Regions from separate parts of the Homo sapiens genome. Here region 2 is linked to region 1. The links come from fine-mapping of genetic effects on gene expression. A gene starts in region 1. The other region holds a variant in brackets. All regions are shown on one strand. Distances are between the middles of the regions. Region 1 holds the start of TNFSF8 (TNF superfamily member 8). Region 2 has its middle 62 kb from the start of TNFSF15.

Region 1 (4,402 bases):
TCGTTCCCACCTTAATTACCGGACCAAACGAACGTGAACACACTGTTTTCAAAACCAAACTCAATTGGGATCACGGGGGCCTCGGTTTCCTTGATTGTAAAATGGGTATATCGCCCCCCACTCTATTTAGCCCAAGAAAACAATTTATCTCTTGATGTCTCTTTCGTCTCCAGGATCTATGCTTTTACAGACTCACTGGGAGGAAATATCCAGACCAAATCCTAAAGCCTGATCTAATTTGGGAGATGCTCAGAAGTTTTGGTTCTATGCAAGAACAGCAGTGGTAATAATCCAAGCTTGGCTTTAGACACAGGACGTTTCCTTAGGGGCATCTGGGATCTCTGCTGGCTCAAAGTGATGCGCTGCAGACAAAAAGTGAGCAGAAAGGAAAGGAGGTGCTATGCAGAATGAGCTTCTTCCACGGTGATACCAAATGGAGCTTTCAAAGGCCCACATCTGGAGGCAGCAGCTATGCAGTGATTAACATTTTAAACGGTATTTTGAAATGGAGATCATTAGTAACCACAGATGTGATCTGACTCTGTCCCCCAGGTAATCTGTCTATTGTATCTAAATTCCAGACTTAGCCCAGTAGACAGCTTGGGATGTTTAACAGGAATTGTCCAACACCATCCCCAAATCTATTTTTATTCATGGAGTACTCTGACATCATCTCGCTTGGTCTTCCTGATGACTGTAATGCAGATTGGGAACAGAGAAAGCCATAAAGACTTGTATGATGGCCCAAGGCTAAGAAGGGAAAGGGCTGAGACCACACTTCAGGTTTTAGCTTTCAGGTGCAGTGAAGATTGAATGACTTAGCACGAGCTTTCAGCCAGGCAGGCTGCAAAGTGCACCCAAGTTCTTTCAGTGATCGACACTTGCGACTTAGGTTGAGATAGTTTTCATCCTCCCTGAGCCTCAGTTTTCCCATCTGTAAAAAATAAACATTGCCTGCCTCGGAGGGTGGAGGTGGAAGTGGAATGAAGCCACATGTAACTCCTAGCGCTGTGCCTGAGACAGTAGAGGTTCAATTATAGTAGTCACATACACACACAACACATACATACACAAGACACAACACACCACACACAACACATACATACACACCACACACAACACTTACATACGCACCACACTCGGCATGCATTGCAGATCACAAATGCACACCACACACACACTGCATACATATACCATAGAGAACACACAACACCTACACATACCCCCATACCACAAATACACACACACTACATAGTACACCACGCAGAACACACACAGCCCCCATATTCCACACCACACCATCTCACTGCCAATTCCTTCCCCTCTTCATGAGTTTTACGGCAGGTCCAGGTTCATCTGCCAGTTTAACAGATCCCAAAACTTCTGCAGGAGTGTTTGTTCAAAAGATTGATATTTCCAGATTCCTGCTTTCTGACAGTATCTTTGAACCCCAAATTTCATACTGCCATGAGCCAGTCCCCCTTTGGAGAAATATCTCCATTTGTGTGCCCTTTTTCCCCCAGGGAACCTGCAGCATGTCCCTTTTTCAGCAGTAGCCTATCAAACCGAACCCTTTGGAGTTATTACACTGCAGTCCGAGGGATCCGGCCTCCCTGAGACCCAGCAAGGACTCATTATCTGGGGAGGTCTTCTGAGCCACAGGCCTCGCTGAAAGAAGGTGCAGCTTCTTGAACAGGAAGGCGTTTTGTGGCAGAGTCTAAACGAAACAGAAGTTGCTTTGTGTGTGCGCACGCATGCACACACACACACACACACACACACATACACACACACAGTCGGGGAACCGTCATTTTCCTACGCGCCCTCTGACATCAGCCACCTTCTCTGTAGCTAGTTTCTCTGCACACAACTTAATCCCTGGCAATGAAAAATGAACCTCTCCCCCACCCTTGCTGCCGCCTCTCGCCTCACGCCCCCAGAGAAGAGTTTCTCCACCAGGCAGCAGGTGAAGGTTTTTTTCCAAGTCACATGATTCAGGATTCAGGGGGAGAATCCTTCTTGGAACAGAGATGGGCCCAGAACTGAATCAGATGAAGAGAGATAAGGTGTGATGTGGGGAAGACTATATAAAGAATGGACCCAGGGCTGCAGCAAGCACTCAACGGAATGGCCCCTCCTGGAGACACAGCCATGCATGTGCCGGCGGGCTCCGTGGCCAGCCACCTGGGGACCACGAGCCGCAGCTATTTCTATTTGACCACAGCCACTCTGGCTCTGTGCCTTGTCTTCACGGTGGCCACTATTATGGTGTTGGTCGTTCAGAGGACGGTAAGTGGACTCCTCTTCCTCCCTTTCCTTTTCTTGTTGTTTTCCCGAGAGAAAGAGCCCTGGGAACAAATGATATTCGTTTGTTGGTTAAGAGCACAAAATAAAATTAAATAAATAAACTCTCTCTCTCTATATATATATATATACTATAGTATATACTGTATAACGTAATACACTTATGTTACATAATATATATTATATTATACAGTATATATTATATATATATATATATATGAGAAAGGGAGAAAAGAAAGAGGAACTTAACTCTCTAAAATAATTTGGCTTGTTGAGAAAAATATTGTTAGACCATCATCTTAAAACTTTGCAGATCTGTCTGAGCAAAACAGTGGAGGGGAGCTATTGGCCTTTTAAAGTTAAGATTTAAATCTTAATGAGCCAGAGACCCATATCAAGGAAGGAAGCAATAGAGAAACCTGATAACACATTTGCACAAGTTGTTATCATGTCTTCAAGGACTTCAGACTGGATTCTGAGGTTCTATATCCTAAGTCTGAGTGTCCTGGAGGTTTCTGAGGCCTCACCCATTGCCAAGAGTTTTGTTTTTGCTTTTGTTTTATACAAGGAGCTAAGTTTCAGAGGCCAAGGTCTAGAAGGAAAGGAGGCGAAAGAGAAGACCATGGCTTCTTAGAGCTTTGGACATTTTGGTGTTAAAGCCAGCAAGACAAATCGAAAGCTTCCTCTTAAGCCACAACTTTGAAGAAGTTAGGGCGTCACAAAAAAAAAAAAAAAAGAAACAGCACATAGAAGCAGAAAGTTGAAAGGTTTTTAGCACCTGTTCTCTCTGATGTTCCTCACAATACTAAGCAATCGTTGGGTACACACTGTACAGGGTCAGACTGTCTTCGGAGATTTACTTTGAAGTAAATGGTAAGATTTGTTTCTGAAAACAGAAGAGGAGGAGAAAGAGGAAGCTTCTTCATATTTTAGAAAATTGGTGTTTACAGAGAATCTACCAGTATATATTATATAGAAAATGCTGTAGTAATAGCATATATTGCTCATGAATTTTTTGATGAAGTTGTTAATGGGTAATTTAAGAGCTGCACCCACCCACATGACCTGCCAAAGTGAGAATATTTCTGTTTCTTACTTCATAGTGCCTACTTTTCGTGGTATTATAATCCTGCTGAATTTATTCTGGTTTTTCTTCAGTTTTCTTAGGCCAAGTACTCTATAGCTTATCAATTGCTGGAAAGAACTAGGCTTTAAAAGGCTTTGATATCTATTTCTCAAGTGTCATCAAGCTTTGAAATTAAATGGAAGCTTTGAAGCTCATATCTCTACAAAAGTGAAAAGAAGGAGTTGCAAATATTTGATTTAGATAGTGGAATTCTTAAAACTCATAATTTAATGGCTTATCTACATCTATTAAGTATAATAATCTTGAAAACACTTTAGGACATCTTTTCTTCTGCAGGGGCTCTGCAATTTCTGTAATTCTAATTTGGAGTGAACCAAGGGTATGTCATTTTATAGCAATGGCCAAAGAAAAGAAATTGAAGTGTCCTTTAAGAAGTTCTTTAGTTAAAGGATCCAACTAGAACTGCTGAGAGAGAGAGAGAGATGGTGGAAAAATGGGTGGCGATGGTGATATATAAAGCTAGAGAGAACTTCAGAGCTCATTCATATCCAACTTTTAGTTGAATTGATTTCTTCTATAAAAGAACCAGAGCAGATCTTTCTGCCTCATTTTTGTAAATGTGGAAAATGAGGAGCAGAGAGGGAACAGGGCTTGAACTACGTCACCCTGAGAAAGTGGTAGAGCCAATACTGCTTGATTGCTTGATGCAAGCAGCATCCCCTTTGCCAATACAGACAGCCACAGAAGCACTAAGAAACATTGCACCCACTCTTCTCTTGGGAGCTTTATCTTCTTGTGCATCCACTTCCTTGACTTACCCCTCATGTTTGGATATGAAAAGATTCACTGTGCAATCTGATTGTACAGTGCGGTGTGCTGTGATTTCTTAGACCAGGAAATATCAGTTGCTTCCTTAAAATTAAGGCTTGCCATGTTAATAGTAGCCGTGGTATATAAAGTGTCAAATGCATTGCACATATCATTTTCAATAAATTCCTCAGACCTTAACTG
Region 2 (4,402 bases), 62 kb after region 1:
GAGGACCCACTTGAGGAGGCAGTCTGACCCTTAGCAGAGCTCAAATGCTGTGCTGGGAGGTTGGCTGCTCTCTTCAAAGCCATCAGGAAGGGATGTTTAAGTCTGCTGAAGCTGCATCCACAGCTGCCTCTACCCCCAGGGGCTCTGTCCCAGGGAGATGGGGGTTTTATCTATAAGTCCCACTGAGGCTGCTGCCTTTTTTTCAGAGACGCCCTGCCCAGAGAGGAGAAATCTAGAGAGGCAGTCTGGCAACAGTGGCCTTCCTGAGCTGCAGTGGGCTCCACCCAGTTCAAACTTCCTGGAGGCTTTGTTTACACTGTGAGGGTAAAACCACCTACTCAAATGTCAGCAATGGTGGATGCCCCTCCCCCAGCCAAGCTCGAGCATCCCAGGTCAATCTCAGACTGCTGCTGTCCTGGCAGCAAGAATTTCAAGCCAGTGGATCTTAGTTTGCTGGGCTCCATAAGGGTGGGACCGGCCAAGCCAGATCACTTGGTTCCCTGGCTTCAGCCCCCTTTGCAGGAGAGTGAATGGTTCTGTCTTGCTGCCATTCCAGGTACCACTGAGGTATGGGGAAAAAAACAAAACAAAACAAAACAAAACAAAACAAAAAACTCCTGCAGCTAGTTCAGTGTCTGCCCAAACGGTTGCCCAATTTTTGTGCTTGAAACCCAGGGCCCTGGTGGCATAGGCACTAGACGGAATCTCCTGGTCTGTGGGTTGTGAAGATAGTGGGAAAAGCACAGTATCTGGGCCAGAGTGCACAGTTCCCCAGGCTCAGTCCCTCATGGCTTCCCTTGGGCAGGGGAGAGAATTCTCCAACCTCTTGCACTTCCCGGGTGAGGCAACACCAACCCTGCTTCAGCTCGCCCTCCGTAGGCTGCACCCACTGTCCAACCAGTCCCAGTGAGATAAACTGGGCACCTCAGTTGGAAATACAGAAATCACCAGCCTTCTGTGTCAATCTCACTGGGAGCTACTGACCAGAGCTGTTCCTATTTGGCCACCTTGCCAGCAATCTCTGCACCAAGTTTTTGAAATATGTTGTGTATTTGACACTTACCTCTCATCTCAATTCACACAAGCCACATTTCAAGTGCTCCATAGCCAGATGTGAATTGTGGCAACAATATTGAACGGCCCACATCAGTAGTATTTTTTCTTTGGAAAAATTATTAGGGCATTGCTAGGCCTAAGATATGATAAAGTTTTGTCCCATGAGCACTTTATCAAAAGTTTATTCTCTACTTTTAGGGTTCAATTTATTTCTATAAAAATATCTTCTAAATTATGTTCACTTTCTCTTTATCTTGGTATCCACTGGATTTGCCAAAGTTCCAAAAAGGTGTAATAAATGTTTCCACTACAATATTGATTCTGTCAAATTTTTCTTATATTTTCTGAAGATTTTACTTCTAATATTTTTGTGCTATGTTCATTGGTGCATAACTATTCATGGCAGTTATATTCCATTATGAGTCACAAATTCTATCATTATACAGCATTTCTTTTTGACCTATTCAACAACTTTTGCCTTGAATTTTACTTTCCTGATATTAACGCTGTGATCTTTCTATATTCTCTTGGGTTGTCTTAGCCAGTATGCCTCTGCCCGATCTTATAATTTCAACTTCCCATGTTTCTTTATTTTAAAGAATTCCATGTCTCTGAATCACTTTACTGAACTCAGTATTTAATCTGTGAGTATAAAGAATCTGACTAAAGAATATTCTCTCGGCCGGGCACTGTGGCTCACTCCTGTAGGAGGCCAAGGCAAGCAAATCACCTGAGGTCAGGAGTTCAAGAACAGCCTGGCCAACATGGTGAAACCCTGTCTCTACTAAAAATACAAAAATTAGCCAGGTGTGGTGGCATGCGCCTGTAATCCCAGCTACTTGGGAGGCTGAGGCAGGAGAATTGCTGGAACATGGGAG[C/T]TGGAGGTTGCAGTAAGCTGAGATCATGCCATTGCACTTCAGCCTGGGCTGACAACAGCAAGCCTCCATCTAAAAAAAAAAAAAAAATCTTCTCTCTTCAACAGTCACAATATAATTGAGTCTTAGAGAACTACAAGTTTACTTAGTGTATATTCCTTTTTAATAACATGAATTCCCTATATATTTATAGCATTCTGTAGCCTGAAAATCACTTTTTTTTTTTTTTTTTTTTTTTTTGAGACGGAGTCTCGCCCTGTCACCCAGGCTGGAGTGCAATGGTGTGATCTCGGCTCACTGCAACCTCCGCCTCCTGGGTTCAAGCAATTCTCCTGCCTCCCTCCCAAGTAGCTGGGATTACAGGCATGTGCCTCCACGCTCAGCTAATTTTTGTATTTTTTGTAGAGACGGGGTTTCACCATGCTGGCCAGGCTAGTCTCGATCTCCTGACCTCGTGATCCACCTGCCTTGGCCTCCCAAAGTGCTGGGATTACAGGCGTGAGCCACCGCGCCCAGCGAGAATCATTTTCTTATCTATTGTCTCCTTAATTTTCACAGCCATCTTTGAAGTAGAAAGGGCAAAGATTGTCATTCATCCTGATTGTGAGCATAAGGTAGTGTAAACTGCTCAAGTATTATATTCGTGGGTATAAATTAGCTCAGGTACTTAAGTGACAAGCCAACAATTCAACGTAAGGAAGGTGGTTCAAGACACCTTCGCAGTTTCGCAGTTTTGGAGAGTGGAGCAACTCCTGGAGTGCTGTAACTTTCTTCTGTTTTTCTAAGTAACGAGATTTGCCCTTTTATTTTAAAATAAAAAAGCACTCATTGATTACACTATATACTAAACTGTGTTAGCCAGTGAGAATACCAAGTTGAATAAGGCATAATCCCTGTTTCATAGCACAGAATAGTTTAATGGTTCTCAAATCTGTCTGATCATCAAAATTGACTAGATTTTTTTTAAATTATGATGCCTTTTGGTCCCCTTCCAAGTACACTCAACGATCTTGGGACTAGAATGCGAAAAATTGTATATTTTAAAACTCCACAGGCCCAGACAGAATTGAGAACACTGACATTCTATTAGGTTGGTGAAAAATTAATTGTGGTTTTCGCCACTGAAAGTAACGGTAAAACCACAATTACTTTTGTACACCCTAATACTAAAACAAAATTTTTAGCATATGTATCAATTTTTATAATATTTTGCTTATATCACTTTATTTAATTCTCATAGCAACACAGTGAAGCAAGATTAGATTATATTCACTTTATAAACGTGAGAATTCAAAAGCAAAGTGGTTTCCCAAATCACAACCAGTGGTTGATAAAGTATAGCCAGGAATTGCAATTCATTTCTCCAAGTCCTATGCTCCTTCCTCTTCACCTCCACTTCATAAAATCAAAGGAAGGAAAGCAGTTCATAGATAAAGAGTAGAAGAGGAAAGCCAGCGGCTGGCTTCTATAGGAGCTCAATGAATTTTTCCATTTAACTAAGCTCCAATGTGTACTACCAATGGAAAAAGGCCGAGATAGGCTGATGTTATAGCTCCCAAGTCCAGAATCCCAGCCCTGGGTTGATGTAAACAGTCAACCAGTTAAACAGTGCTCACCAAATTTCAGACACTATTGGTGTGACATCAAATGTATATATAATCACATGCACACACACACACACACACACACACACACAATTTAGTCCTCACAACAACTTTATGAAGTGGGAACAATTATCAACCCCAATTTATTGTCTAGGTGAGGAAGCTGAGAGACAGAAAAGTTAGTTAACTTGCTCAAAGTCACAAATATAACAAATGTTGGAGACAGGATTTGGGCTTGTACCAGAGACCATGTTTTTAACAATTTCACCATAGAGCCACTTTGTTCCATACTGGATTTCCAGCCTTTGGCTCTGTCTAGAATTAAATTATGACACTTTGTGTCCATAATTTTTCTGCAATTACACCATATTCTCTACAGCCCTAGAATAATTACTAAGCTGGGAAAATCATACCTTGCCACAGCCCCTGGGCATTGCCCTGATTTCAGCACATACTAGGCTGTTTCACACATGTGGACAGGTTCTTGCCTATGTGTGTCATGATGCCTCTGCTCTTCTGCCTCAAGGATTTCTCCAAAACCATGGAAGTCTGCTAAGCCCTAATGCAAGTGCAGCCTGGCAGTTTGAAAATAGTGACATTTGCAGAGTCAAGCCTGACCCAGAGATGGATGGCAGTTGATGGATAAATGCTCCAGGCTCATCGTTCTTCAGAGAGACAGTTCTGAGGCATGGGCTACAGTTTTCTCAACCTTGGAAACATTGATATTTGGAGCTGGATAATTTTTTTGTTGTAGGGGTGGCGGCTGTCCTGTGCATCGTAGGATGTTTAGCAGTATCCCTGGATGCTGTCGCATCTCCCAGTTATGATAACCAAAAATGCCCCCACGCATTGCCAATGCTGTGAGGA

Evidence for each region. PIP is the estimated chance that this variant, and not a neighbour inherited with it, causes the effect.
Region 2: its variant is the best candidate, but not a certain one, in a credible set for the expression of TNFSF8 in lung (TOPMed, PIP 0.70).

The regions. Positions count from the first base shown.
Region 1 is chr9:114,927,996-114,932,397 of GRCh38, reverse strand. TNFSF8 (TNF superfamily member 8) reads left to right here and starts at 1,807. Exons shown (of 4, transcript NM_001244.4): 1 at 1,807-2,289. The coding sequence starts at 2,095. RefSeq lists an enhancer at 2,154-2,713.
Region 2 is chr9:114,865,990-114,870,391 of GRCh38, reverse strand. No RefSeq gene overlaps it. Among named protein-coding and RNA genes, the nearest start is that of TNFSF15, 62 kb to the right of the region's middle. The variant C/T (reference allele first, on the strand shown) is at 1,935.